Regions from separate parts of the Homo sapiens genome. Here region 1 is linked to region 2. Evidence: fine-mapped expression QTL. A gene starts in region 2. The other region holds a variant in brackets. All regions are shown on one strand. Distances are from middle to middle.

Evidence for each region. PIP is the estimated chance that this variant, and not a neighbour inherited with it, causes the effect.
Region 1: its variant is the best candidate, but not a certain one, in a credible set for the expression of CIBAR1 in blood mononuclear cells (TOPMed, PIP 0.62).

What each region holds. Positions count from the first base shown.
Region 1 is chr8:93,834,628-93,850,968 of GRCh38, forward strand. It overlaps the pseudogene MYL12AP1. Among named protein-coding and RNA genes, the nearest start is that of MIR378D2, 73 kb to the right of the region's middle. RefSeq lists an enhancer at 11,524-12,723. The variant G/T (reference allele first, on the strand shown) is at 8,894.
Region 2 is chr8:93,691,265-93,707,605 of GRCh38, forward strand. It overlaps CIBAR1 (CBY1 interacting BAR domain containing 1), which reads left to right and starts at 9,286. Exons shown (of 9, transcript NM_145269.5): 1 at 9,286-9,409; 2 at 9,960-10,194; 3 at 12,356-12,424; 4 at 13,645-13,746. The coding sequence starts at 9,384. CIBAR1-DT (CIBAR1 divergent transcript) reads right to left here and starts at 9,169. Exons shown (of 11, transcript NR_033858.1): 1 at 8,672-9,169. RefSeq lists enhancers at 8,805-8,884, 8,914-9,538 and silencers at 9,105-9,154, 9,185-9,324, 9,515-9,634.

The DNA of each region.
Region 1 (16,341 bases), 140 kb after region 2:
GGGGCAGCTGGGCAGAGGCGCTCCTCACTTCCCAGAGGGGGTGGCCAGGCAGAGGTGCTCCTCACTTCCCATTCGGGGCAGCCGGGCAGAGGCGCTCCTCACTTCCTCCCAGACGGGGCGGCCGGGCAGAGGCGCTCCTCACATCCCAGAGGATGGGCGGCCAGGCAGAGACGCTGCTCACTTCCTAGACGGGGTGGCGGGCGGGCAGAGGCTGTAATCTTAGCACTTTGGGAGGCCACAGCAGGCGGCTGGGAGGTGGAGGTTGTAGCGAGCCGAGATCACGCCACTGCACTCCAGCCTGGGCAACATTGAGCATTGAGTGAGCGAGACTCCCTCTGCAATCCCAGCACCTCGGGAGGCCGAGGCGGGCAGATCACCCGAGGCCAGGAGCTGGAGACCAGCCCGGTCAACATGGCGAAACACTGTCTCCATCAAAAATACAAAAACCAGTCAGAAGTGGCGGCGCGTGCCTGGAATCCCAGGCACTGGGCAGGCTGAGGCAGGAGAATCGCCCACTGCAGGGAGGTTGCAGCGAGCCAAGATCATGGCGGTACAGTCCAGGCTCCGCAAGAGAGGGAGACCTTAGAAAGAGGGAGACGAGGGAGAGGGAGACCGTAGAAAGAGGGAGACGGGAGAGGTAGAGGTAGGGGGAGAGGGAGAGGGAGAGGGAGGTCGGGAGTTTGAGACCAGCCTGGCAATGTGCTGAAACCTTGTCTCAACTAAAAGTACAAAAATTAAGCTGGGTGTGGTGGCATGCGCCTGTAATCCCAGCTACTTGGGAGGCTGAGGCAGGAGAATTGCTTGAACCTGGGAGGCAGAGGTTGCAGTGAGCCAAGATGGCGCCACTGCACTCCAGCCCGGGCGATAGAGCAAAACTCTGTCTCAAAAAATAAATAAATAAAAAATTAATAAAATTAAATATAATAAAATAGCACTTGATCAATTTCTGTAAAACTTGTAAAATATGTGGGACAAAGTAGCAAACATAAGAAGCCGTATTTCTTCATTTCTTCCTGGCACCACAATTTCAAAAAGTCACTGACTCTGTGGGACAGGCAGCTCTCTGGAAAGATGCTTTGAAGACAAAACAGGAGAGAGCACATAGGCCCCCCACATCTCTTGCCTGAGTCACTATACTGCTTAAAAGATAAATGACCTGGTCCTTGCCTTGTCCTACACATAAGATAATGTCAGATGGGGTTAGTGATTATGCCTCTGTAATTTTTAACCAGATGTACTCTTACACCCAAACCTTGATGTGATTCTGCTTTAATGTAACTTCTGAGGAAGTTTGATGTGATTTTGCATGTACTGAACCCCCATCACCTGTATATAAGCAGTGAGATGAAAAACTGTACCAGAGCCGAGACTGCTCCCAGGCTCTAGACCTTGGTCCATAGTCCTCAGGAAGACTTCTAAATAAAGCTAGCCTTAATTCTTTAAAAGCGTGATGGTTGGCTGAGCACAGTGGCTCATGCCTGTAATCCCGGCACTTTGATAGGCTGAGACGGGCAGATTGCCTGAGCTCAGGAGTTCGAGACCGGCCTGGGCAACACGGTGAAACCCCATCTCCACTAAAAATGTAAAAATTAGCCGGGCGTGGTGGCACGCGCCTGTAGTCCCAGCTACTCAGGAGGCTGAGGCAGAAGAATTGCTTGAACCCTGGAGTTGGAGGTTGCAGTGAGCCGAGATCATGCCACTGCACTCCAGCCTGGCAACGGAGCGAGACTCCATCTAAAAAAAAAAAAAAAAAAATGCCTGATGCTTTTTCTTTAGTCAACAAATGAAATGAAAATTATTAGTATTCAAAGAGGGTTGGGTCTTCACTCTGTTTTTAGGATGTTGTCAAGTTTTACGATGGGAAATAAGTCCCGAAATCATAGAATTTAGGCAACCTTAGCAATCGTAGCTTACCTCGCTCATTTGTGATTCAGAAAATTGGAGCCCAAAGCAGTTTTGTGGTAGGTCCAAGGTCACTGGCAAGCCCCTCAGTGGAGAGCTAGCGCTAAAGTCTCCTCAGGACAGCCATAGCCAGGCTGAGAATAGTTTAATGGAGAAATGATCTAATTTAGGTGGTTCACCTGGCTTGTCAAGTACGACGAATGTGGCACAGAATTCTTAGAAACAGGACTTAAAAGTTTAAAGCATATACAAATGACATGCTTAGGCATGCAAAAATATGTGCATACATATTGATTGTACTGGTGAAACCTATCTGCCAATAGAGAAATTTATGTCATGCTGTCAAAAAATAGCGCTTCCTTTAGTGCAGTTCACACTACAATTCAAACTGTTCCAGAAAAATGTGAGTAAAATCTCATGCAAGTAAAAAATGTTGAGTCCTGGAGTCCCATCCAGACTTCAGTGTTTTTTGTTATTTGTTTTGGTTTGTTTGAAATAGGGTCTCGCTCTGTTGCCCATGCCCAGGATTGAGTGCAGTGGTACAATCACAGCTCACTGCAGCCTTGACCTCCCAGGATCAAGCGATCCTCCCACCTCAGCCTCCAAAGTAGCTGGGACTACGGGCATGTGCTACCATGCCTGGACAGACTTCAGTGTTGAGCCTATTTTTATCCCCTGAATAACTGCCTATAGGCAAGGACACTTGGTGATGTATAACCCTTAGGGCACTGCTCTCTGTCCCTAAAGCACACTTAAGTATTTTTTTCTGATTATAAAAAGAGTATATATTCATTTCATTGTAGAAATTTTGAAAACCACGGAAAACCAAAGAAAACAAAAACTACCTGTAATTCCATCATTAGAGGTAACCACAGATTACATTTGGTTTTAGCATATTTCCCTAAGACATTTTCTTTGCATTATAAATAACATATAACATATTTATACTTTTTTCCATAAGGGGGTTACCATGTATACTATACACATTGTTTTGTAGCCTGCTCTTTAAGCACCACAGCATAAGTATATCTCCCTGTAATTAAATATTCTTCACAAATGGGTTTTAAAGATACTATTATTTAAAAAATGGTTCCTTCCTAAAGAAGTACACACTAGGGCTAAGTTCATTTACTGAGCCCTTGAACTACTCGTAATGACCTTTGAGAGATCACTCAAGGTCAAGGCCAAGCCCTCTTTAACATGGCTTCATGACCTACTTCCCGGGCTTCTTTACTCCTCATTGCTCCATCCATGCTCAAACCCTAAGTGCCACAGATACCAGAATGAATTCCTGTAATAAAGCAGTTGGTCATTCAGCCAGTCCGTGTGTCTGTCTGCCCTCCTTCCTTCCCTCTCTCCTTGAGGTCTGAAAACCTACCCTGGTCTCTCTCTGGAAAGCTCTCTCTTATTGCAACTGCCTTACTCCTTACTCATCTTTTGGCTGTTAGCCTGGACTTCCCTCCTCGGGAAGCCTTCCCGGATCCCTCATGACCAGGTCAGGTGTCCCTTTTCTAGGTCCCCACAGCCTCCTCACTTCCCTATTCATAGCAGACAAGAAAACTTGTTAGGACAGGGACCATAACTGCCTAGTGTGTTCACAAAGTTGTATCCCCAGAACTGACAACAATATGTATCATATATTATATATTTATTTATTAGCTTATTGTTTATGTTATCTATTTCCCTATGAGAATAAAAGCACCATGAGTAGGGGTCTTGTCTGTCTTATTAGCTACTGAATCTAGCCCCAGTACCTAGAGTTCTGTTAACACCTCAAAGTATACTATTAGTATTAGTCTGTTCTCACACTGCTATAAATAAATACCTGAGACTGGGTAATTTATAAAGAAAAGAGGTTTAATTGGCTCATGGTTCTGCAGGCTGTACAGAAAGCAGGGAGGCTTCAGGAAACTTACAATCACAGTGGAAGGGAAAGAGGAAGCAGGTGGCCAGAGTAGGAGCAGGAGGGAAGAAGAAAGGTGCTACACTCTTTTAAAAACAACCAGATCTCATGAGAACTCACTCACTGTCACGAGCACAGCACCAAGAGGATGGTGCTAAATGATTCATGAGAAATCACCCCCATGATCCAATCACCTCCCACCAGGCCTCACTTCCCACACTGGGGATTACAGTTCTACATAAGATTTGGGTAGTGACACAGATTGAAACCATATCACCATTCCATATTTTTTTCTGTTTGTGGCTGTACATATATATGTGTGTATGTATTGTTTTTTACAGAAATGAGATAACTTTGCATACATTTTTTGTAACCTGCTTTTTTCACTCATCTATATATTGTAAATATAATTTCATGTTAGTAAAATCTTCTATAAGCATTTTTTTCTATCCATCTTCCATTGTTGGACCTTTAAATTATTTTCTGTCATAAACTTTAAAATAAATCCTAACCATCAGTACAGCCTATGAGCAGAAGGGAGCCTTTCTATTTGATTTATACACACATGGGGATTACAAGGTGACACAAGAGAGCTTTCCTTGCCCCCAGTCTTCTTGGTGTTCTGGAACCTGCCCCTTCAGATGGGGTCTGGGAGTAGGTTTGACCTGGCCTCCTTTCTTCCTTTTCTACCTTCTAGCTTTTTACTGCTCAGCTTGCAAGATGCTCAGTTTCCTCTGGTTTGTCCTGAAATGGAGCTGGGGAAGGGATAAAGAAAAGTGGCCTTTACCTCCCTCCCGCCAATGGTTCAGCCTCAGAGAGGAGTGATTACATGTTTCTTCTCTATTGTGTGTCCAGCCACACAATTTTTACAGAGCAGTAGGCTCAAATATCTGTCCTTGCTTGTTTGGGAAATGGTACTTCATTCAGTTTGCAAGCATTCAAAGAGCTTTTCTTTTCTAATTAAAATGCTGCGAACCACCATTTAGCTAAAGCTTTGCATCTATTTTCAATGATGGTTTTAGGAGAACATTCTAAAAGAGTAAGTTCTGGCTTAAAGGTTATATGCATTTTTATTTATTTATTTTGTTTTAATGAGAACAATTTTACTTTTTATTTTTTAAATTTTGTGTGTACACAGTAGGTGTATATGTTTATGGAGTACATGAGATGTTTTGACACAGGCATGCAATGTGAAATAAGCACATCGTGGAGAATGGGGTATCCATCCCCCAAGCATTTATCCCTTGAGTTACAAACAACCCAATTATACTCTAAGTTATTTTAAAATGTACAATTAAGCTATTATTGACGACAGTCACCCTACTGCGCTATCTAATAGTAGGTCTTATTCATTCTTTCTAACTATTTATTTGTACCTATTAACCATCCCCAACTCCCTTCCAGCCCCCACTCCCCTTCCCAGCCTCTGGTAACAATCCTGCTACTCTCTAGTCCAGGAGTTTAATTGTTCTGATTTTTAGATCCCACAAATAAGTGAGAACATGTGATGTTTGCCTTTCTGTGCCTGGCTTATTTCATTTAACATAATGATCTTCAGTTACATCCATGTTGTTGCAAATGACTGGGTCTCATTCTTTTTTATGGCTGAATAGTACTCCATTGTGTATATGTACCACATTTTCTTTATCCATTCATCTGTCAGTGGACACTTAGTTTGCTTCCAAATCTTAGCTATTGTAAACAGTGCTGCAACATAGAAGTGCAGATATCTCACCAATATACTGATATTCTTTCTTTTGAGTATATACCCAGCAGTAGGATTGCTGGATCATAATGGTAGCTCAACTTTTAGTTTTTTGAGGAACTTCCAAGTTGTTCTTCATAGTAGTTGTACAAATTTACACTTCCACTAAGAGCGTACAGGGATCCCTTTTCTCCACATCCTCACCAGCATTTCTTACTGCCTATCTTTTGGATAAAAGCCATTTTAGCTGATATCTCATTGCTATCAATGATGACATCTCATTGTAGTTTTGATTTGCATTTCTCTAATGGTCAATGATATTGAGCAGCTTTTCTATTTATTTATTTATTTTATTTGTGAGATGGAATTTTGCTCTTGTTGCTCAGGCTGGAGTGCAATGGCATGATCCCAGCTCACTGCAACCTCCGCCTCCTGTGTTCAAATGATTCTCCTGTCTCAGCCTCCCGAGTAGCTGGGATTACAGGCATGTGCTACCAAGCCCAGTTAAATTTTTTTGTATTTTTAGTAGAGACAGGGTTTCTCCATGTTGGTCAGGCTGGTCTCAAACTCCCGACCTCAGGTGATCCACCCACCTTGGCCTCCCAAAGTGCTGGGATTACAGGCATGTGCCCAGACTTGAGCAGCTTTTCATATGCCTGTTTGCCATTTGTATGTCTTCTTTTGAGAAATGTCTATTCAAATATTTTGTCCATATTTTGATCAGATTATTAGATTTTTTTCCTTTAGGGTTGTTTGAGCTCCTTGTATATTCTGGTTATTAACCCATTGTCAGATGGGTGGTTATATACTTTTTTCTTTTTTTTTTTGAGACGGACTTTCACTCTGTTACCCAGGCTGGAGTGCAATGGCACGATCTTGATTCACTACAACCTCCGTCTCCTGGGTTCAAGCGATTTCTGGCTAATTTTTGTATTTTTAGTAGAGACAGGGTTTCACCATATTGGCCAGGCTTGTCTCAGACTCCTGACCTCAAGTGATCTGCCCACCTCAGCCTCCCAAAGTGCTGGAATTATAGGCATGACCCACCGCACCCAGCTGTTATATGCATTTTTAAGTCTGGTGCATACATACTGTCAAATTGTCTTCCATGAAAATTGCACCAAGTTACATTCCCACCAGTGGTGTACAATAATGCCTCCCAACACCAGGGATAATCATATTTTTGGTAGGCAATTTGTGGTATCTCTTTTCATTAATGTGCATTTCCCTAACCCATATGTTTTTAGGTAATAGATTAAAAAGTGGTATCTTGTTGTTGCATGAATTTGCATTTTTCTAAAGCTTATTTCTTTTAAAAACTAATAATTTCAAAGTACATTTTTCTTTTTAGTAAACCAATAGAATTTTAAAATTTCCTCTATTAATTCTAAGATCACCTGAGACAAGAAGACAGCAGAGTTTTTAGTCACATCTCACAACCACACACTACAGGCGGTGGAGTTGAAAAGAAAGTGCTCATCTAAGCAACCTTACTGTTTTACAGATTTAAAAAGATAAGGCTGGGCGCGGTAGCTCACGCCTGTAATCTCAGCACTTTGGGAAGCTAAGGCAGGCGGATCACCTGAGGTCGGGAGTTCGAGACCAGCCTGGCCAACGTGGAGAAACCCTGTCTCTACTAAAAAATGCAAAATTAGCCAGGCGTGGTGGTGCATGCTTGTAATCCTAGCTACTCGGGAGGCTGAGGCAGGAGAATTGCTTGAACCTGACAGGCGGAGATTGCGGTGAGCCAAGATCGTGCCATTGCACTCCAGCATGGGCAAAAAGAGCGAAACTCTGTCTCAGAAAAATAATAATAAAATAAAAAATAAAAATAAAAATAGGTCGGGCGTGGTGGCACATGCCTGTAATCCCAGAACTTTGGGAGGCCAAGGCGGGCAGATTATGAGGTCAAGAGATCAAGACCATCCTGGCCAACATGGTGAAACCCTGTCTCTACTAAAAATACAAAAATTTGCTGGGCGTGGTGGTGCATGCCTGTAATCCCAGCTACTCAGGAGGCTGAGGCAAGAGAATCGCTTGAACCCAGCAGGCAGAAGTCACAGTGAGCCGAGATTATGCCACTGCACTCCAGCCTGGTGACAGAGTGAGACTCCATCTCAATAAATAAATAAATAAATAAATAAATAAATAAATAAATAAAAGGTCTAGTGGTTAAACAAAAATGTATCTTAATGAAAGCTGTGATAGTTTAATCAAACACAAAATGAGGTTATTTTGTAGCTGCAAAAATTTCTGTATATTTCAATTTAAACAATATTATGTAGCATGTACTGTACTTGGAAAAAGTTACTCAACAAGGTGCAGCAAGAAAACACAAAGATAAAACTCCTTTCAAGGACTCTATGTACAGAAGTAAGAGATTAATATCAACAAAGTGCTTGATGAAAAGCAAAGGGTTAACAAAGAAAATGTATAGAATGAAACTAAATTAATGAGGACAATTGATGACATAGTCGAATTTGTAGAAACTTGTCAGCATATAATGGAAATTTTTTTTTTTTTTTTTTTTTTTGGAGACAGAGTCTCACTCCATTTCCCAGGTGGGAGTGTGGTGGCGCGATTGTGGCTCACTGCAACCTCCACCTCCCAGGTTCAAGCAATTCTTCTGCCTCAGCCTCCTGAGTAGCTGGGATTACAGGCATGCGCCACCATGCCCAGCTAATTTTGTATGTTCAGTAGAGACGGGGTTTCACCATGTTAGCCAGGCTGATCTTGAACTCCTGACCTCAGGTGATCCGCCTGCCTTGGCCTCCCAAAGTGCTAGGATTACAGGTGTGAGCCTCTGCGCCTGGCAGGAAAATAATTTTTTAAGACTATTTTAGGGGTGTTTTTTTTATATTATTCTGGTGGGGAAAAAAACTTCACATATGACCACAGTTGTATGTACCTCCCATTAATCTGAATGTGGTTGTACAACAGCAGTTTCAGAAGATTGTGCTATCAGATGCCTCTATGTGGAGAAAGAATAGTCTATTCAATCAACAAGCACTCACTTATTCTAAACCTGATGCTATGAAGGATCTACTAAGATCAAAGACAAGGTCTTTCTGTCCTGGAAGGGTTTAGCCTAATGGACGAGAAAGACAAAGAAATAACACGAAACAGTGTGATAAGAGCTATTATCGTCCCATCTGAACCATTGTTGATTGGTCTCTGGGAGTTGTCAGCTCCAGGAAAGCTAGAAACAGGACAGACTGAGGTCAGATGCCAGAGACAGTAGGACCAAGATGCCAAAGCCTTGCCCAGAAGCACAGCACTGGTGTGGAGCTGAGGTCAGATAGCTGCCACGACGCTGGGGCCAGGCAGCTGGCTGGAAAGTGGAGCCAGGGCAAGCCTAGGGGACACATCTGAAGTCAGAAATG[G/T]CAGGGGATGGGGGAGAGGCAGAGCAAGGAAATGGGAAGCCTAAAGCAGGAGGCCAGCGAGAGTTTGTGGGAAGAACATTCTGTTGTGTGGGGGACTTTCTCAAGGCCCTATTGACCAACCCCAGGAAACAATCCACTGCTGACTTAAAGGCTATACTCACCAACCAAGTATCTAACTGTAGGGGTGGTATAAAGTGGTCGGGGAGTCATCAACCTGAATTTTTGAGGCTTCAAAGAAGAAGTAGCAGAGAATATGGTCTGGTCTGTTTGAAGGGTGGAAGACAGAAAGGAAATGGTGCAGGATGAGGCTGGTAAATCGGTACCAACAACCAACATTCATTGAGCACTTTCTCCGGGACAGGCCAAGTGTGAAGGGCTTCACACTCACGACCTTATTTAAGCCCCACAACAACCTTGTAGGATAAACTCTATTATTAGCTGCACTTCACAGATTAAGAAACTAAGAAACTTTGCAGATTAGAGAGTTTACATAATTTCTCTAAGGTTTCACACTATAATGTGAGTTCTAACTCCACAGCTCTATTATTAACTACTAAATATGCTCTGTGGGGCATGACTATAAAGAGGCTTTCTCAGACTACAAGTTCTGCACTTTCTCTTTTAGGCATGGTGATGCCTGTTTGGAGGTATAGCTTAATGTCATCAGAGTAAACTTTAGAGTCTTTGGATCTGAGTTCAAATCACAGTCCTATGACTTGGTGAGACTCCTTGTTCAATTTTCTTAGGCATCATTTTCCTGTTCTGAATTAAGAATAATAACAATGTCTTTTGAAATGTTGTGAGACTTAAATACGACAATGTACATGAAAGCATCGGTTGACTACAAAGCTAAACGTAAATGTTAACTGTTATGCGTTCTACTGTATTTTATATAAACCCTCAGGGCAGCCACGAAGCAGAGTGATATGAGAGCCATCTGGAGACTATTTTAATGATCCAGATGAAGGATGATGACAAGGGCCTACGCCAAGGCAGTGACAGTGAGGGCGGAGAGAAAGGACACATTTAAAGGATATTTAGGACGCTTTACAAAACAGAACCTAATGACAGATTGGATATAGAGAGAGAGAGAGGAAAGGGGGTCAGAATGATTCAGAGTTTTATGTTGAGTAATCGGGTGAATGGTGATGTCATTAATTAAGGAAGAAGAGTAGGTAGGATAATACGTTCTATTTCAGGAATATTGTGACGAGGTGTCTATGAGACATCCAGTAAGCGGAGATGTGAAATGTGAGTGGGACTATGAGGGGGGTGCTCAGAAAAGAAATGTGCCATAGATTCAGATTTGGACATCACTGGGCATTTGTGAGACTAAACCTCTGACAGTGGATGTGATGTCCAGGTAAGACATGAAGCAATGGTTTGTAGCTCTTTAAAGCCAAGGAACCTTTCCACTCACACACAAAATAAATGCTTATGCTAAAACCCAGTTTGCAAAACAGCTCAAAATGAAGCTTTTCTGGTTAAATCCAGAGTGAATTGCCTGGAGCCCACTTCTTGAGACAGCCTCTGAACAGGTTTAACTGAGCCCAGTTTGAGAACCACCTACATGAAGAACAGAAGAGGGTGAGTTAACCACTAAATGGAGTCTGAAAGAAAGCAGCTCATGCAAAATCAGACTGGAATTTTAGTTTTAGATTGTTTGTGAAGAGCTTTTTTGAAACTTTAATGATTTTGGAAACTTCACCCAGTTATTCGCGGTACTAACACTCATCCTGGCCTGCTCTTACGGATGTCTGACCCTGTATTTCAATGTCTATATGTGCCCACCAGAAGCTGCAGAGCCATTCAAATAAAGACAGTTGGCTGAGTTTCCAAGTCTCTCCTTCAAAGTTCATGCACATTAGTTTTCCTTCTTATCAGCAGAGGCTTGTCTTGTACACATCTGCTGGGTCATTCATGCTGAGATCACCACGTTTGTCCCAATTACCATGATTCTTATGTGATCTCTAAACTAGATAAATGCTCATCCACTCAAGCAGTTGTTTAATAAAAGTTATCTCAAATATTTAACTTGTAAGCTTTTTAAGAAGTCGAATTGGTGAAACCTTTTCTCCGAATTAAATCAATTGAGTCTGCTTATTATTTCAACACCGTTGAGGGTTTAATCCTAAATCCACTAAGGTATTAAATCAGAAACACCTAATCATATGATAAGGAAAGATAATAGGAGCAAGAAAAAAGAGCAGAGGGAGGCCAAAAGAAAGAAGCAAGGACATCGGGTGATCATATTAAGAGCTACTTTAAAAACAAAAACAATAGCACTCTAACATATCAGTGATCTAACACAATAAAAATTTATCTCTCACTCAAAGTTCAACGTTGTGGATATTTATGATTGGCATGTGATGGTTCATTTTGTGACTTGGGTACCCTTTTAGAGCCTCTACTTCTTTGCCTGGATCCTTTGCCACTCAGCGAGTAGATTGTGGACGAGAAGACTGGCAAGGGAGAGGTTTCTATGGGCCAGGCTGAAGGTGGGCGCATCACTTCTGTGTAAGTTCCCTCGGCCAGAATGAGCCACAGAGCCATGCTTATCTGCAAGGGGAGTTGAGAAGTATCTAGCTGTGTCCCCAGAGCTAAATGGAAGTGGAGAAAGTGAGCAGCAGCTAGTCTTTGGTACAGATGAAACAAAAAGTGCCCGTGCACAGGTTTTGTAAAAATTAGGAAAAATGAATCCCTGGTACATAAAAATTTTCAGCCTGGGATTCTTCTTATATGGAAACCTTAGTCCCAAGGTCTGAGAGAGGTGCATATTGAATACTCCCAACCCTGTCACAAATATCAGTTAATTCCTAGATAGGAGGGAATTACTATGTTTTTCAGATGTACCAAAGAAAATGTTCATCAATTTTATAGATAAAATCCAATTCTTAAAACATTAAGAAAATATTTTATTTCAAATAATGAAATAAAATATATTTGTATTTGATGCAGCTGAGCATTATTATATAAACTTTTCCTTTACAAACTTATAAAAACTTGTTCACATTCTTACCCCAAAAAAAGTTTTCAAAAAGCTAAACACTTACCCACTGAGTCATAGAATAATTGGAATTCTGACAGGAAGATAACTGTAAAGCAGTTCTTTAAAGAGGAGTAGCACTCTGCTTTATTTAAACCGCACAAAGTAGGTAAGCGTTTTGTGGGTCGTGGATTTTCTAATTCAAGGTGTTATGCAATATGCAGCTGGGCTTTGAATGGCTTCCTCCTTTGTTCTTCTTGCACGCACATGCCATTTGGTGACATCCTGAGGTCTGGGAGGCTATTGGATTAGACTTTCTGAAAAGGAAAGGTTATTCTACACCATGTATAAGAAAAAGCTTTGATGATTCACAAAATTAAAGCTTTTTACTTCCCAGCAGGGGAGATTTCCCAGCCAATATGTTGAAAGGAAAGTGGCTGTATTAAAACTTGCTCCCTGATAGAAACAGAGATCCCAGCTGGCTTTCGCAGGAGGGACAGAGCATTATGATGATGTTGATTAGACAACTTTTAAACAGCACCAGTAGACAAAGACATTTTCAGCCTCCAAAAAAGAAATGGAATGAGTGCCAAGTCTGCATTTTGTGGAGAGTATAAGGCTTGTTCCAGCAAATGTTTTCTCATTATAGAGTAATGCTTGAGGAAGCACACATCAGTTTCGTGCCTCTTCATGATTTGTCTTCCATCTCTTTCTTGTCACCTTTTTAATTGCACTCAGTGTTTTTGCTTCTTCTGCTTGAAGAGAGCACTGAAACAATGTGTATTGGTTTGTAATCAGCATCAGACTTGACTACTTAGTAATTTGTAAAGAGCTTTAAACTCAGTAAAAGAAGGTCTTGGTAGATGTTTCCTTTTGGGGGCATATCAAAAGAAAGTTGTCTTTTTCTTTTCTTCCCCATTTTATACAGATTTTTTAATGCCAGAATTCTATCCTTAATGTATTTTGATCTATAATCATTCTGATTAGACAGCCATTGCAAAAATATCCATAAAACAAGCAGTTCTCCAATTGTGCCTGCAGCATGGTATTTTATGGAGTATGTTAAGTAGAACACCATGGTTCCCGAGGTAATTATAGGTGCTATGTGAATGCAGAATGTATTCATTAATAACAGAATTAATTATTCCAGAATTTATTATATGACTCACATATAACAGAAAAGTCACCCTGTTTCAATTCTCTTTGAATCCTTTTGTCAAGGAGAAAGTTTCAACTTAATGACATTTTTCCAAGCTCTTTTTAATGAGACAAGTTTCAGGCTGAGCATCATCAGCAGACAATTTTATCTACCTCGAACTTAATTACATTTTATTCTCCTTACTTTTATTTTTATTTTTCATCTATGTATAGCAGGTGAAACAGATTGCCCAGTTATCAAATGATACACAGTTTTCTTATAAAATAGTTATAATGCTTAAAAGGGAGTCACTTTAAAGGAAAATATCAAATGGTAAGAGTAAGTGATTTATAGAACTCAACAATGAAGCTATCAGATCCTGGACTTTCATTTGATGAGAGACTTTTTTTATTACCGTTTCAATCTCTTTACTGGTTATTGATTTGTTCATATATTCTCTCTCACCTCTCTCTTGTTTTTTTTTTTTTTTTGAGACGGAGTTTCACTCTTGTTGCCCAGGCTAGAGTGCAGTGGCGGGATCTCAGCTCACTGCAACCTCCGCCTCCCACGTTCAAGCAATTCTCCCGCCTCAGTCTCCTGAGTAGCTGGGATTACAGGCATGCTTCACCACACCAGCTAATTTTGTATTTTTAGATGAGATGGGCTTTCAACGTGTTGGTCAGGCTGGTCTTGAACTCCTAACCTCTAGTGATCCACTCACCTCGGCCTCCCAAAATGCTGGGATTATAGGCATGAGCCACTGCGCCTGGCCATATGTTTTATTTCTTCATGATTCAGTCTTGGTAGGTTATATGTGTTGAGGAATTTATCCATTTCTTCTAGCTTATCCAATTGTTGTCATATAATTTGTTCAGAGTAATCTCTTATGATCCTCGGTATTTCTATGGTATCAGTTGTAATATCCCCTCTTTCATTTATTTAGAGAAAGTCTTCTTTAAAGAGAGAGTCTTTCTCTTTTTTTCTTAGTCTAGTTAAAGGTTTGTCAATTTTGTTAATCTCTTCAAAAAGCAAACTCAATTTCATATAAAGAAGAACATTTGAAGAACTAATACTTAATGTTTCTCAAACTCTTTCAAAAAAATTGAAGAAGAGGGAATACTTCAAACTCATTTTGCAAGGCCAGCATTACCCTGATACCAAAGCCAGACAAGGACACTATCAGGAAAGAAAATTATAGGCCAATGTTCCTGATAAACATAGATGCAAAAATCCTCAACAAAATACTAGCAAACCGAGCTCAACAGTACATCGTAAGAATCATTCACTATAATCAAATGGGATTTATCCCAGGGATGCAGGAATGGTTCAACATACACAAATCAGCAAATGTGATACGTCATATTTAAAGAATTAAGGACAAAAATCATATGATTATCACAATAGATGAAGAAAAAACATTGGACAAAATTCAACATTCTTTCATAATATAAACTCTCAACAAATTAGATATAGAAAGAATGTACCCCGATACAATAAAGGCCATATGTGACAAACTCACAGCTAACATCACACTCAGTGGAGGAACAAGAAAAGGATACTCGATTTCTCACCATTTCTGTCCAACATAGTACTGGAAGTCCTAGCCAGAACAGTTAGGTGAGAGAAAAAATAAAAGGCATCCAAATTAGAACAGAAGAACTTAAGTTGTCTCTGCAGACAACATGATCTTATATATAGAAAACCCTAAGTCCTTCACCAGAAAAATGTTAGAATTAATAAACAAATTCAGTAAAATTACAGGATAGAAATTCAAAATACAAAAATCAGTAGAGTTTCTATGTAGTACAATGCAGTATCTGAAAAAGAAATTTTTAAAAATCCTATTTACAGATAGCGGCAGCGAGGGGCTCGCTGACGTGCTTGGATTCTCGTAGCTGTGCTGGGATTTAACCACCATGTCAAGCAAAAGAGCAAACACCAAGACCACCAAGAAGTGCCCTCAGCACACGACATCCAATATGTTTGCTGTGTTTGATCAGTCACAGATTCAGGAGTTCAAAGAGGCCTTCAACATGATTGATCAGAACAGAGATGGTTTCATCGACAAGGAAGATTTGCAGGATATGCTTGCTTCATCCGGGAAGAGTCCAACTGATTGGTATCTGGATGCCATGATGAATGAGGCTCCAGGCCCAATCAGTTTCACCGTGTTCCTCACCATGTTTGGTGAGAAGTTAAATGGCACAGATCCTGAAGATGTCATCAGACATGCTTTTGCTTGCTTTGATGAAGAAGCAACTGGCACCATTCAGGAAGATTACCTGTGAGAGCTGCTGACAACCATGGGGGGATGGGTTCATGGATGAGGAAGTGGATGAGCTGTATAGAGAAGATCCTATTGACAAAAAGGGAAATTTCAATTATATTGAGTTCACATGCATCCTAAAACATGGAGCAAAAGACGAAGATGACTGAAAGAACTTCAAGTTCCAGCCAAACATTCCTTGTTGCCACTTGGGGTATTTCTGAGATTTTTCTCTTGCATGCCCTTAGCTTTACAGCTTTTGCATTTCCTGTTGTATTTATTCTCAGCCATTTGGGGCACCTGTATCTTTATACTCAGACTGGAAATGGGACTTTCTATTAATATCATTTTCAGAATAGAAAATAGGGTAATTGGCCAGGCACGGTGGCTCATGGCTATAATCCCAGCACTCTGGGAAGCCAAGGCAGGTGCATCACGAGGTCAGGAGTTCAAGACCAGCCTGACCAACATGGTGAAACCTGGTCTCTACTAAAAATACAAAAATTAGCCAGCATGGTGGTGCACACCTGTAATCCCAGCTACTTGGGAGGCTGAGGCAGAAGAATCGCTTGAACCCAGGAGGTAGAGGTTGCAGTGAGCCAAAATTGTGCCACTGCACTCCAGCCTGGGCAACAGAGCGAGACTCCGTCTCAAAAAAAAAAAAAAAAAAGAAAGAAACCAGGCATAGTTGCTCACGCCTGTAATCCCAGCACTTTGGGAGGCCAAGGCAGGTGGATCCAAAGGTCAGGAATTCAAGACCAACCTGACCAACATGGTGAAACCCCATCTCTACTAAAAATACAAAAATTAGCCGGGCGTGGTGGCATGGGCCTGTAATCCCAGCTACTCAGGAGGCTGAGGCAGGAGAACTGCTTGAACTTCGGAGGCAGAGGTTGCAGTGAGCTGAGATTGCGCCACTGCACTCTAGCCTGGGCGACAGAGCAAGACTCTGTCTCAAAAAAAAAAAAAAAAAGAAAAAGAAAACAGGGTAATTAAACCTACCAGCCCCTCCCCACTAATAACTGTGATCTATACAGTGTCAATATATTTTTTCAGAG
Region 2 (16,341 bases):
TTTTAAAACCCCAAAGTAAACTTAGAAATCAAACACAAAAATTATATTTTTATAATCCTATTTTTATAAGATCTTCCTGTCTACTCTACATGTAACTATATAACCTGTATAACCTATATATAACTGTAACTATATAACTTATATATACATATATAACTATATAACTTATATAGATATAAGTTATATAGATATGTTATATATATGTAGACAGGAAGAGACGTGTGTAACATATATATAACATATCTATATGTGTTATATATGTATACATATGTATATGTAACTTATATATATCTTACTGCACAATCATGGCTCATTGCAGCCTTGACCTCCTGGGCCCAAGTGATCCTCCCACCTCAGCCCTCCAAGTAGCTAGGAAAACACGCAAGTGCCACCACACCTGGCTAAGTTTTTTTATTTTTGTAGAGCTGAGATTTCCCTATGCTGCCTAGGTTGGTCTCAAACTCCTGGGCTCAAGTGATCTTCATGGGAGGATATATCTTATCAGAATTTTATCTGAATTGTATTCAGATTTCCATATATATGCAAATTTGAATAAAATATGGAGAAATAAAAAAGCAAAGCTTTTTGTCTTTTATGTATTTATATGTTCTTCTCATTATAAATACACATATATAACATATATATAACTTACGCATATATAAGTTCTACCTTTACCTTCCGGATAAATAGATAGATCTAGAAAAATGTTCACCTAATATTAACATTTTATAATGAAAACACTGGTGTTTTTTCCTATATTATGCTTCTCAGTATTAATGAAATTTCTAATAATGATCATGTATCAATATTTTTTCTAAAAGACAAAAAGGCTAGGTGCTGTAGCTCACACCTATAATCCCAACAATCTGGGAGGCCGACACAGGAGGATCACTTGAGCTGCGGAGTTTGAGATCAGCCTGGGCAACATAGGGAGATATCAGCTCTATGAAAATTTTTTTAAATTGCCAGACATGGTGGCTCACATCTGTAATCCCAGCGCTTTGGGAGGCCGAGGTGGGCAGATCACCTGAGGTCAAGAGTTCGAGACCAGCCTGGCCAACATGGTGAAATCCTGTCTCTACTAAAAATACAAAAATTAGCCAGGCATGGTGGGGTGCACCTGTAGTCTCAGCTACTCAGGAAGCTGAGGCACAAGAATCGCTTGAACCCAGGAGGCAGAGGTCACAGTGAGCTGAGATTGTGCCGCTGCACTCTGACCTGGGCAACAGAGTAAGACTCTGTCTCAAAAAAATTAAAAAATTAAAAAAAAAATTAGCCAGGCGTGGTGGCACTTGCCTGTGGTCCTAGGTACTTGGAGGGTTGAGGTGGGAGGATCACTTGGGGCCAGGAGGTCGAGGCTGCAATGAGCCATGACCGTGCCACTACACTCCAGCCTGGGTGATGGAATGAGACCCTGTCTCGAAAATAATTAATTAATTATAAGAAAAAAGGCTTTGCTTTATTTTTCCCCATATTTTATTCAGATTTCTTTAGTTTTACGTGATGCCCATTTTCTGTTCTGGGTTGCCACATTACACTTAGTAGAAGTTTATGTCTCCTTAGGTTCCTCTTAACTATAATGGTCTCTCAAATTATCCTTGTTTTTGATGACCTTGACAGTTTTGAGGTGTACTAGTCAAGTATTTTGTAAAATCTCCCCCTATTGGAATTTATCTGTCATTTTCTCAAAATTACACTGGGGTCATGGATTCGGAGGTGGAAAACCACAGGTGTAAGATACCATTTTCATCATGTCATAAAAAGGGTACATACTAGGAACATAACCCATAGCTGTTGATACTGACCTTGATCACCTGGCTGAGGTAGTGTTTGTCATGTTTCTCCATGGGAAAATTACTTTTTTTTCTTCCTTCCATACTGTCCTCTTTGGAAAGAGGTCACTACGTGCAGCCCACACTTAAGGAGACAGGACTTTTACTCCACCTCCTTGAGGATGGAGTAGCTACATAAATTATTTGGAATTATTCTGTGGGAGATTTGTCTCTTCTTCTCCATTCATTCATTAATTTACTCTCAGCATGGACTCAAGAATATTTAATTTTTTACTTTGGGTTATAATCCATTACTACTTTATTTTCTTGCTCAAATTGTTGGAGCTTTGGCCATCCAGAGCTCTTTTAATTGACTCCTATGTCTCCTTAACATACCCTCCCATGTGTGTTTTTTCTTTTGTGTTGTATCAATTTTTCAAATCAATTCACAAAAAGATGAATGTATTAATAATTAGACTGATGCTAATAGGTATATTAACGGTGCTTATGTAGTATTAGGCACATAGACCTTAATGATAAGACGCTGATACATACAAATCAAACTTTTTTTCCAGCAAAATATTGAGTGTGTGTTTATTTACTTAGCTAACAATATTAGCTCAACAATATTATTACAAAGTTCTCCCTTTTTGAATTCTCCAAGTTAGAGAAACACTGACAAATCTATGGTATTAGTAGGCACTAACCTTTGTGGACCACTTACTATTTCAGGTACCATACTAAGCACTTAACATCTAGTACTCTGCTTAATCTTCACAACCTCAGAGCTAACCCCTGAGGAATGTGAGGCACTCCAGGAGTCTAGGCCACTGGTTCCCAAAGTGTGGTAGAGACCAGCAGGTTCAGTAACACCTGAGAATTTGTTATAAAGGCATATTCTTGATCCTCACCTCAGACCTCCTAAATGAGAAACTCCGGGGCTGGGGCCTAGAAAACTGTGTTTCAACATGTCCTGCAAGTAATTCTTGCTAATGCTTGAGAGAGCAGTGGAGCCAGACTTTAAATCCAGATATTAGACATCAGAGCCCATCAAAGCCCATGTACTTAATTACTTAATTGTACTCTCTCCCTATTATACTAAGAAGAAGACCAGTAATAGGTGATTTCTAGTTAAAAACTGGTCATAAAAGAGATAGCAGTCCAGGGCAGTTTCATTCTATTCCCTTTGTCTTCCAGTGCTTGACCAAGCAACTTTAAGTATTAAATTTACCGCTAGAGGGAGTCCCGACATTCCTCAAATGCTGAACCTTTTAAAAGCATGTAAATAAACACACACTCAATCCTTTGCTGGAAAAAAAAAAAGTTTGATTTGTATGTATCATCATGAAAACAATTTGTTTAAGCTACTTAACATGGAACAGCTGCATTTGGAGTGATATTGTTAGGCACAAATCTACTTTTAACAAATAAATACAATATACCATGATTGGTCACTTAACATCTTCATTTCTAAAACAGAACTGAAGAAGGGAAGGAGGAAACTCCAATTAGCAAAATAATAATATACTTTAAATTAAAATAATCTAGTTTAAACTACATTATCATCTCTAAATTCCTGATGAAATGAGACTGGAAAAGACTTCAACAAAATTAGCCAGTTGCCTCTACAGTGTCTCTTTCCGCATTGCTCTGAGCACTTGAGTTCAGGAATGTTAAATTCAGCACCTAGTACGTGGCAAGTTCTCCGCAAGTAATGCTGAATACTTAAATAAAGCTAATGCAACTCTCCGCCTCCACTAGGCCCCCCTTAAAACATGCTAAATAAATTGGAGTTCATTCAACGTTACACGAAATAATATTGTGCTGTTTTCACAATAAATATACAAATATCACATAGTAGTTCAGAAAAGTGAGACCCTATAATGCTTATAACCTGAAACAATAATTTCGAGATTTTGAAATGCTATACTCAGCGATAGATGGATCCTATGACACACACCCTCCTTCTTCCAAATATGGAATGACATTAAAATGTTTCAACTTGTTTACAATCTTTGCAAAAAATCACTTTTTTGTATTTTATTTAATTTTCTATTTCAATAGGTGTTTGGAGAGCAGGTGGTGTTTGGTTACATAAGTTCTTTAGTGGTGATTTCTAAGATTTTGGTGCACCCATCACCTGAGCAGTGTACACTGTGCCCAATGTGTAGTCTTTTATTCTTCGTCTCCCCCTCCCAATTTACCCCCGAGTCCCCAAAGTCCATTGTATCATTATTATGCCTTTGTGACCTCATAGCTTAGCTCCTACTTGTGAGAACATCTGATGTTTGGATTTCTATTGCTGAGTTACTTCACTTAGAATAATGGTCTCCAATTCCATCCAGGTTGCTACAAATGCCATTATTATGTTCCTTTCTATGGCTGAGTATAATCCACTCATATTCCATGGTATATATACACATTTTCTTTATCCACTCATTGATTGATGTACATTTGGGCTGGTTCCATATTTTTGCAATTGTGAATTGTGCTGCTATAAACATGCATGTACAAATATCTTTTTTGTATAATGACTTCTTTTCCTCTGGGTAGATACCCAGGAGTGGGATTGCTGGATCAAGTGGTAGAGCTACCTCTAGTTCTTTAAGGAATCTCCACACTGTTTTCCATAGTGGTTGTACTAATTTACATTTCCACCAAGAATGTAAAAGTGTTCCCTTTTCACCACATCCATGCCAACATCTATTATTTTTTGATTTTTTGATTATGGCCATTCTTGCAGGAATAAGGTGGTATTGCATTGTGGCTTTGATTTGAAAAAAAAAAAAAAAAAAAAATCACTTTTAAGAGAGAAAGAGATCCTGGTACTCTGGAAAGAACATTGAAGAAAGAAGACAAAGATTCAGTTCCACCTCTGCTATCTAATCATGCAATTCTGGCCAAGGCACTTGTCCTCCCAGGCCACCAGCTCCTCTTTGATGAGATAATGTGTCCTTGGAAAAAGTATAGCCTATAAGAAAGAACATGCCTCCAAGTAGTAAAAAGATTTGAGAACAATTGTGTTAATGCATGTTTTTTAGATATCTGTTGACAGAAGAGTAAAATCAAGAGCCCGTATCTTAGGAGGAAATTTCCTTGAGCACTTTCATTTCCATATATTGAGTACAGATTGAAGAGGGATAATTCAATATGCTTCTGTTCAACAATTATGATACCATTTACCAAGCATTTGCTAACAGCTTTAAGAGTTACACAATAGATCCCAGCACTTTGGGAGGCTGAGGCGGGCAGATCACCTGAGGTCGGGAGTTTCTGATCAGCCTGACCAACATGGAGAAACCCGGTCTATACACCCGGGAGGCGGAGGTTGCAGTGAGCTGAGATCACGTCATTGCACTCTAGCCTGGGCAACAAGAGCGAAACTCCACCTCAAAAAAAAAAAAAAAAAAGAGCTACACAATAAATAACTTGCTTTAACACATCAATAGCTTCACATTGATACAAAGACAATGATTGTAATGGTTAATTTTATGTGTCATTAGGCATTCCACCAAACATAATTCCGCATGTCTGTGAGGGTGTTTACGGATGAGACTAAAATTTGCATAAAGGAGAGTGCCCTCCCTAATGTGGGCAGGCCTCATCCAGTCAATCGAAGGCCTGAATAGGAAAAAAGTCTCAGTAGGAGGAAACTGCTCCCACCAGACTGATTGACTTGGGACGTCATCTTTTCTAGCCTTCCCAGTAGGACTCAGTCATCTGTTTTCCTTGGGTCTCCACCCTGTTTGCTTTCAGACAGGAAATAAACCATCAGCTCTTCTGGTTCTCCAGCCTTTGGACTTGAACTGAAATGACATATTGGCTCTCCTGGGTCTCCAGCTTGTGAACTGCAGATTCTGGGACTTCTCGGCCTACATAATTACTTCAGCCAATTCCTTATAATAAAATTATACAATATATTATATATTATATTATATTATATTATATTATATTATATTATATTATATTTACAAACACAGACTATTAGTTCTGTTTCTCTAAAGAACCTTGACTAATACAAGAACCAATCTCTACACTCCTTAGCATGGCCAAAATGCCCTATACGACCTGGTTTCCATCTACCCCTCCAACTAAATCTCAGACAGAACATGATGCCACCTCCTCCACTCCACCCTCATCAGCTTTCTTCCATGTCCTCACACATACTGTGTTTCCTCTGTCATGGGGTTTTCACTCATTTATTTATTTATTCATTGATAAACTCAACTAATTATTGAATTTCTACTATGAGTCAAGCACTGAGGTTGTACTGGGAATATAAAGTGAACAGGTAACAATGTGGCTAGTTTCATGGAGAATATGTTCTAGTCACAGAAGACAGAAATAGATCTACAGCCATACCTGAACATGCCTGATCTTGGAAGCTAAGTGAGGTCCAGCCCGGTTAGTACGTGGATGGGAGAAGACAGAAATAGCATGTAAATAAACAGGTTAATTTCAGGACGTGACATGTGCTTCAAAGGAAACAAAACAGGGTGAAAGAATCATTTGGTGATCAGAGAAAGCCCCACTCATAGGTGTTTTTTAAGTACAATTTTATATGAAGGGGCCATCCATGTGAGGACTTGAAGAAGGAGCATTCCAGGCAGAGAGAATTACAAACACAGAACTAACTGTGAGATAAGTTTATCTATAGATAAACACAGAGAGAGAGAGAGAAGCTTATATACATATATATGTGTGTGTGTGTGTGTGTATATATATATACACACACACACACACACACACACACATATGGCATGTGTCTATAGCACAGTGGGGCAGCAAGAGAAGGTAGATAGGTAAGCGGAAATGAGATAAAGCCTTAATAGCCAGAATAGGATTTAAATTTTTATTTGAAGCACACTGAGAGGCTTTGGAGGGTTGACATCATCTGATTTAATGTTTGATTTCACACTGCGATGTTTAACAGTGGACATGGGGAGACTAGTAAGGGAGGTTTGCAGTAAGGATGATTGGTGGTAGCAGTTTGGATTATGGGGATGTAGAAAAAAATGAAGAATGATTCAGGATATATTTTGGAGATGGAACAGATAGGAATTGCCCATGTGACTGGAGAAAAGAAAGGGTAACTCCTAAGTTTTTGACTTGAACAATCAACTGGGCAATAGCATCATTTTCTGAGATATGAAATTCTGGGTAGAGATGGGAATGGGGCTGGGGGAGGGCAAGGGGACAAACTGCTCATACTGTCCTTCTCTTGGGACTGTTTTTCACTCCCTCTTCACCTAGTTGACTCCTTCCTATTCTTTGGATCTCAGCTCAAATGTCACTTTCTCAATGAAGTCCTTCCCTGATGAGTTCAAACCAAACCTCTATATTAAGTATACACTCAATTGCTGCCATGTAGTTTCCCCTAATAGTAGACTGGAAAAGTAGCCACCAATTCCTCTACCAACCACACCATCCGTAACATTTCCACTGCCCTCTCACTCTGATCCCTCTAGTCTAGGCCACATGGCTTGCATCCGCCAATAGTGTATCAGCAAACATAACATAGGCAGAGACTTGAAAGGCACTTGTGCAGTTGACTTGTCCTGCTCCACTGTTTTGGAACTCTGAAACCATGGAAAGAAGCCTGGCTGAGGTGCTAGACAATAAGAAACACGTGGCCCCTGCTGACGACCTGCCAATGCCGTGACACAGAAGTGAGGCCTCTTAGATCATCCAGCCGCCAGCTGACCAGAAAGGTGAGTAAGAGCCCAGCTGAGCAGAACCAAGGTAAAAGAACCACCCAGCTCACTCAGAATCCCAAGCTAACCAAACGATTGTAAAACGTCACTAAGTTTTGTGGTGATTTGTTACACTGCAAAAGTGGATACAGTAGCACATACCTCAGTGGCAATTTTACACATCTTTGATTAGCTTCTATCACTGCCACATAACTGTGAGCTCTCTAAAAGCACAGACTATTCTGACCTTAGGTTACTGTGCCAACCTCAAAGCCAAGCATAATACCTGGAACACACCAGGCATCCAACCAATAACATGCTGAGCGAATGCAAGGAGCAAAGAGAGATACACATTGTAACACAAGCGAATAGGGGAAGTTCAAAACAAAGGACTGAGGACATCTATTTGTACAAAATAAAAACTTTTAATCAGCAGCACACGGCAGCGAGGAATACAAGACCAAAATCACATTTAATCTGTCTCAAAGGGTTCAAAGTCTAGGGTACAGGAGGCAGTACAAAATCAACGAAGTGTACTGTTTGAGCATTCCAACACTTCGCTCCTTCAGACAGTATTAGGACCCCGTCCCAAAGCGTTAGGACAAGGCCCTAACGCTGCCTGAAAAAGTGAAGTGACGGAGGATCCCAGAGAGGTTTCTTGAAGCAGATAAAGTCTGAATTGAGGCCGGGCCCGGTGGCTCACGCCTGGAATCCCAGCACTTTGGGAGGCTGAAGGGGGGCGGATCACTTGAGGCCAAGAGTTCAAGACCAGCCTGGCCAACATGGCGAAACCCCGTCTCTACTAAAAATACAAAAAATCAGGCCAGCATAGTGGTGCACGCCTGTAATCCCAGCTATTTGAGAGCCTGAGGCAGGAGAATCGCTTGAACCCAGGAGGCGGAGGTTGCAGTGAGCCGAGATTGTGCCACTACACTCCAGCCTGGGCAACAGAGCGAGACTCCATCTAAAATACATATATAAATAAACAAAGTCTGAATAGAGTCCTTGCAGTATTTACTGGGAAAAGCAGCACACGCAAGGCCAGGAGGGTCAAAGGGACAGAGGCGTTCAAAGGACAAAGGAGAGCCTCCTGTTTGTTTGGGGTTTTATTCTTTTTGAATTTTTGTTCCCCCAGGCCAACTCTAAGAGCCAGAACTGTTCGTTATTTATCTCAGCACAGGTTCGGTGTAAGCGTTGCCTCCTTACCCGACGCTCAGGCCCTTCAGGTCCGGGACCCCTGCTTCTTAATTATGTTTCTATTACTCCCAGTGTCTAACACAATCTCTTCCACGAAGTCGGAACTTGATACATATTTGCTGAATAAACGAAAAGTTAAAGATGAGGCAGAAAGCACAGCTCCTTCCAAGGGCAGCTCTCAAGAGCCCACGTTTTCAGATTCAGCAGTGAAGCGGACGCGTCTGGTACGAGACTACAAGTCGCACAGGCGGAGAGGGGGCCCCCGGGCCTCTGGTTTCACGTCTCCCTCCTGGTCCCCGGCGGACCGGCGTCTTTTCTCCCCTGCTCGGAGTAGCCTAGCAGCGCTGGAGGCTGGCTGTCTGGTAAGCGCGGCTGTTAGAGAGGATGGAGGCGCCGTAGCCCCGCGGTGCTTCTCACAGCCTTCGCCGGCAGGGACGCGCGGGACAACCGCGCAGGCGGCTCTGCAGGGGTGGGCGCGCCATCACCCCTCTCGGTCCCTGCCTGCTTGGCGCTTTCCGAGCCCCAGCCGCGCTCAGGCTGCCTCGGGCATTGACCGCGGGGGCGCGCGCCCCGTTTCCATAGAAACGCCCGGCCTGCCGCGGCGGCGCGAGGGGCGGGCTTTCAGGCTCCCGGCGGCTGCTTGCGCCCCAGCGCGCGCCCAGGCGCCTTGGAATCCCCGTCCTTGGGCCCCCGCAAGGTCCCCGGCCGTGCGCGAGGCAGCATGATGAGGCGCACCCTGGAAAACCGGTAACAGCCCGAGCCCAGCTGCCCAGGGCCGCCCACACTGGAGGGCTGGGGTGAGGGAAGTGGAAGCCTCTGTCCATGGGGCCTCTGCGCCGAATTCCGACCCTGAGTGGGAGGCTGCACGGTCCCCGCTGTGACCTGGGGCCTAATTCCTTGGGCTGCAGCCACCGCCGGCGGCGAAGAGGAGCCCGGGGCCCGGCCGGCTGCCACCCACCCACGCCACCGGGTCTCGGGTCCCCACACTGCCGCGGGCAGTGCGGAAGCCTAGGAGGCAGCCGGGCGCCCAGGCCGCGCTGCGCGGAGCAGCCGGAGCAGCCACCTCCCCAGTTAAGGCCAGGCCCACCCGGCCTGGGCCTTTTCCTGTGCCTACACAGTCCGGATAGTGAGGTCAGGACCCCATGGAGAGCAGTCCGCGCCGGGAGACGCTGGGTCGTTGATGGGTTTACGCCTTCAAAGCTGCAGAATGCCCGGGGAATGTTTGCATGTTAAATTAACGTGAAGCCTTCTCATCTCTAACGAGAATGTTTTGCCTTTTGTGTCACCTTTTCCCTAGGAACGCTCAAACGAAACAACTGCAAACAGCTGTCTCAAATGTGGAGAAGCATTTTGGAGAACTGTGCCAAATCTTCGCTGCCTATGTGCGGAAAACTGCCAGGCTGAGAGACAAAGCAGACCTCCTGGTGAATGAAATTAACGCGTATGCTGCTACAGAGACCCCGCATTTAAAGCTGGGCCTGATGAACTTTGCAGATGAGTTTGCCAAACTTCAGGATTATCGACAAGCAGAGGTATGGAGTGAGATCACAGTGTCATTGTTATGAATGAGCCATGAAGTAGTGGATGAAGGAACCGTGGAAACTTTCACTTGTAATCTACCTAACTGCAGAGGTGGATGCAAACTTGATAAAACGTACATTTTCATAAGACTGTGTGAGTCTATTAAAGAGAAGCGTTCTGTGTTTTATTTTACCCTTTTCAAGCTAACCTTTAGGGCATCTTGAGGTCTTGAATTTCCCCACTTTATTTGCCAACTTTTGGCCAAGGGGTGGCTGTTTACTGGGGGTAGTGGGAATAGTACCCAGGGGGAAGAAAATAAGCATAACTTAATGTCTTGTGTGGCACATAAGTACGTTTTAAAGAATGACTGGAGATGGAAATGTTGGGAATGGTAATGTGGATGGATAAATTATTAATAAATGGGTAAGACATCATTGCTGCATCCATGGTTTGGAAAATTGACCAATGGTTTACTAACAACAACAAAATGCTATGAATTGTATCATGGAAGCAAACCAATACTGAGACACCGTGTGGACTTTTTGCTCTGGGTAGCAGGAGAAGTGTCCTTGTGATTGTTTTCTTTCTAAAAGCCCATATTTTTCCTTTAAATACTTAATAAGCACTTTTACTTGTATTTATTTTCAGTTTCACGGCATAGGTTAACTTATCAGAAGTTGCCCAGTTAGAACTGCGTTGCTTTTTTATACTTTTCAGAACCTAAAACGGGAATTTCAATTTTCAAAAAACAGAATGAGTATAAAAAAAATTGAACTCATCATTGCTATCCATACAAATTTGAAGAGTAATCATATTTGGAGGTACTTTTGGAAAAATGTGGAGTTCTTGTCATGAAACTTCTGTAATAAACAAGTAACTCTCAATTATATATGATAACTGGGGACTTAATGTTTCAAAGATAATTTATATTCACAGGTAATCCTAAAATCTTATTTTAGCCAATAATTTCAATGCCCCTTTGTAGAAAACCTTTGTGCTATTTATCAAATAGCAAAGTGAATTGATTTGCATTTGTTCTCCTTTTATTTCCCTTGCTTACCAAATGGTGGAGGTCCTAATGAACAATGACAAAAAGGTAGGCAACAAAAAGGAGAACAGAAAAAAGACTTAGATAATCCTTAAACTGAATAATCAGTATGGATTATAAGAAATGGTGTAAAGCAAACTGTCCTGAATATCCATGATTTTAGGATTCCTAATATTTGAATACTTGATGAGAAGTCGATTTTTATTTTCCTAACATGTTTTAAAATGAAACATTCATATACATTTCATTTACAGAAACTAAAGAAAAATCAATATGAAATTAAGTGTATTTGTCAATTATATAAATATGTATCATTAAAAAGCCCTTTTCCTGCTATTAAAAAATGTTCATTTTAAGCAATTGAATACATCACCTATCTTGAGAAAAAAAATTTTAATGTCCAAGAGTTATTTTTCTTATGCTATATTTAAATACTTGCCTTAAAAAAAATCTCTCTTCAGTGCCTTCCACTAGTACTACTTGTAAAAGAAGTAATTACTCAAAATGTGATTTAAAAACCTGTAACGTTTAAGAAAAACTATTTAATTCTAAATGAAACAGAGATGAAACATACAGTTTGACAGCTCAGCAACTCAGACCATTTATCTTGTTCTGTAGGCTTCGATAATTCACAAATGGCTTCTCAGAAAAAAAAATGCAGCAAATACAGTGATCTCTAAGCTTTTTTGCTTTTCAAGGTTATGTTGCTTTAAATGTTTCCAAGATGCTCTGTCTTTCAGCTTTGATTTTCTTTTCTGAAAAGTTGAGCTATTACAGTTCAGAGATAATATATGCAAAGTATCCATTACTGTGCTGAACACACTGAAAATGTTAGCTGTATTAAAATTTGAACTGTCTTAACACCCTTAAACTACTACTTTAAGGTAAAAAAGTAATCCTAAGATGATGATGTGGCCAGGATGAGCTCCTGGGAAACCTGAGACATTTTCTTGTCATTTTGCTCACCAGGTGCTTTTCTACTTTTACTATTACTGTGCAGCTTAACAGTTTTTAATGTGTTTTGAGTTTAGATTCTGAGTCTTATCAATTTCTAGTGATTAGCCTTTTATTTATAGGTTAAAATGTTAAACGTTCTAATTTAAAATTTTAATAATTTTCAATAGGTTGAAAGACTTGAAGCCAAAGTAGTTGAACCCTTGAAAACTTATGGGACCATTGTGAAAATGAAACGGGTAAGTAAATCCATTTTCTCACTTAACTGTGAGTTACTCTGGCAAAGACTATGAGGTTTCCAATTGTTTTTTTAAATAAGAAATACAAAGTAGTGGCCAAGAGTGGTGGCTCATGCCTGTAATCCCAACACTTTGGGAGGTCGAGGCGGGCGGATCACGAGGTCAGGAGTTTGAGACCAGCCTGGCCAACATAGTGAAACCCCGTCTCTACTAAAAATAAAAAAAATTAGCTGGGCATGGTGGCATGCACCTGTAATCCCAGCTACTCAGGAGGCCGAGGCAAGAAAATCGCTTGAACCCAGGAGGCAGAGGTTGCAGTGAGCTGAGATAGCGCCACTGCACTCCAGCACAGGCGACAGTGTGAGACTCTGTCTCAAAAAAAAAAAAAGAAAAGAAATACAAAGTAGTATATAGTCATTCTTTTTACTCTGAAAGATCACTTAGATCTTTAAGAATAATGAAATAGTTTTAATGAGCTTATTAAGTATACTGTAGCAATATAGACATTATTATGGAAACTTTAAAATAATTATGAAAAATATATGGACAGAAATTGCTTTACTATATGAATATAAGTTTTTCTTTAAAGCGATAGCATTTAGACTTTTAAAATGTGTGAGAGAGTTCTATTTTTAAAAGTTACTTTATTGATAATTTACATCAGCAGTCCCCAACCATTTTGGCACCAGGGACCGGTTTTGTGGAAGACAATTTTTCTTTAGTTCACAATAGGGTTTGCACTCCTATGAGAATCTGATGCTGCCTCTGATCTAACAAGAGGCAGAGCTCAGGCCTTAATGCTAGCTCGCCCACCACTCACCTGCTGTGCTGGCCCAGTTCCTAATAGGCCTGGGGGTTGGGAGCCCTTGATTTATGTGCGATAAAATTCTTCCATTTTAAGTGATCATTGAGTTTTGGACAAATGTTTATACCCATGTAACCACTACCGCAATCAAAATTACACATTTATATGCATATATCTATTATGGTTAATAGTTTTGCACTGAAATTGTGTCATTATTTTGAGAGAATATTAAACACATTCTCACATACATAGACACTAATTATGTAATACTTGTAATTCCTGTGGTAATGGTACCAGGATCACACAAGAAGTATTCTTCCATTCTTAAAACAATTCTTAAAAGAATTCTTCCATTCTTAAAACTGAATTTTCTTAAGTCAGACATTTTTACTAACAAAAAAATGCCAATTTGCAGGATGACCTCAAAGCAACACTCACAGCAAGGAATCGAGAAGCTAAGCAATTAACTCAGTTAGAAAGAACACGTCAGCGAAACCCATCTGATCGACATGTTATTGTATCCTTTGAATTTGGGTCTTTAAAAAAATGTTTAAGGTATGGAGTACAAAAGTAAATGTATATAGAAATTGTGCATTTTTACTTTTAAACGAGTAGAGAATTTGAATATAAAGATTGAAAAGAAATGCATTTAGGAATTCTCACTATAGAAATTTTAAAGAGGTTACGCCACCTAATTCAAATCCCCTTATATTGTTTTACACAGTAGACTTTGCAAACGAACAAACAAAAAATTCAGATGTTTTTATAAACAGTAAATTCAAATTTCTGAATTTTATTTTCACATGGTGATGACTAAATATTAATTCTACAATTAAAGATCTATTGTTAATCCTAATATATCAGTGTCCTCTATGCCCTGCTTTGAGAAAAGGAAAGAAAATTTTCCCATTTAATTTCCTTCATCTTTTAGAAATAAAACAACTATGTGACATCATGACTTCCAGCCAGTTAACCTCAGGAGTCTTAAGAGTATAATTAAGATCCAAGTTGGACACAAACCTAGAAAGGACTGTCTACTATAACAAGGTTCTTCTGTTAAACATGACTTTCTTAAACTACAATGTGCCTTGTTCGTGAGTAAACAAAAGCATACAAAATAGTGCCTAATTGCCAGCAACTGAGATGGGTAGGACTGTGTAGAAAGCACTAACATCTGGCTGGGCGTGTTGGCTCGTGCCTGTAATTCCAGCACTTTGGGAGGCCGAGGCAGGCAGATCATGAGGTCAGGAGTTCGAGACCAGCCTGGCCAACATAGTGAAACCCTGTCTTTACTAAAAATACAAAAATTAGCCAGGCATGGTAGTACACACCTGTAGTCCCAGCTACTTGGGAGGCTGAGGCAAGAGAATCGCTTGAACGTGGGAGATGGAGGTTGTGGTGAGCTGAGATCACACCACTGCACTCCAGCCTGGAAAACAAAGCGAGACTATCTCAAAAAAAAAAAAAGAAAAAGAGAAAGAAAGCACTAACATCCCTACTGCCTCTTTTTCCCATTCCTTCTTCTATATGTCTCCTTCCTGCTTCCTTAAGGTTGTTACTGCCCAGCTCAGCCAGAAACCACATGAGGAGTGGCTCTTTGAGAGCATTTGAGGTTCCAGAACACCTCCATTCCTGAGGGGAGTCTCTTGAGCAGCGATTTGGGGCTGCGCCAGTTGCTTGGTCCTTCTTCCTTTGGACCAAAGGTACAGAAGCCCAACTTTGTACTAAACAAAAATGGGCAGCCATAGGGCTGGGAGTGCCCACTGGAGACTGGGACAGAAATATCTAGATAGTCATAGTGGCATAAGATCCGCAAATGGAGATTATAGAATCTGTGTTTTAAGCAAGTCAGACAAACCAGAGAATGCTGGAAAATTTATGACTGATAACTAGAGATCAAGGCAGAGGCTATGGGGCAGGGTGGGTGGGGGGGTTCACCAGTGTTTAAGAATTAAGCTAGGGATGAAAATTTTTTGTTTTGTTTTGTTCTTTGTGGCCTGGAGTTGGGGAGGTGGTGATACATGAAGACATCTGGAATCCTGAGTAGTTGGCAAGATTGAATCAGGAGTACTGGTGTCTACAGTAAACACAGAAATGAATCTATTCCTAAGACAAACATTTTTCTGACTTGGATGCTGTGCTGTAAACACTGCTGTGGAAGGGAGATAATCTTAGAGCACAGATGAAGCAGGTCTTTGGGTTCACATGGTGAGGAAATAAATATAACCTAAGAGATTACTGCCACAGGTGAGTCAGTGTGCTCACTGGGTAAGATCTGCAACTTGTGTATTTTGACAACCTGAGACCAAAACATGAAGGACAATCTACATACAAATGTAGTCAATATAAATATACAAATATTCGATCATAGTATTATGGCATATTTCCCAGGATAAACTCTTAAAATTCATCTATGTAGAAGTATGTTTAAGTTTGATATGTAAGATAAAATGGAGTCCCTCTGATAGAGAGGATAGGGAAAAGAAGAATCCCATGGCTCTGCCTGCTCACCCCCCAAGTAGGGCTCCAGGTGACTCCTGAACAAGCTTCCTATAATGCAGTGTGAGAAATACCAATCTGGCTTACCCTTTTAAAAATCATTTTGAACTCTTAATTAATTCCATTTAATATACTGATATCTGTATTCATGGAGTTGTATCTTAGTATTTTAATCCAAAGCATTTCCTACTCAAGTTGGTATATTATAGAATTTTGAAGAATTTTCAGTGAAAAGAAGAAATATTAGAAATCTATATTCTCTTTGCTAAAAATGGATGTGTTACTTTAGGTGAGTTGCTATGCTCAAGTAAAGGGATTTGAGACTTTCAGAAATAAATAGTAGTTGCTGGAGGGTGATAGAAGATGAAGCTACACATATCCCGGTTATGGCTTCTGTTTCCCCATGCTTCCCTGATTTAGCCAACTCTACTTACTCTTCTAAATTTTAAAATGAAAATATCAATAAATGAGGAGGGTAAAGACATGAGTCAAAAGGAAGTAGTCACAAGTAAAAAGCTGCATCAGTCATGTGTAATAAACAGTATTAGGAATTAGTCTGCTTGAATATTCTCATTAGCACAAGGTTAACATGTATCAAATAACTGTTAGAGAT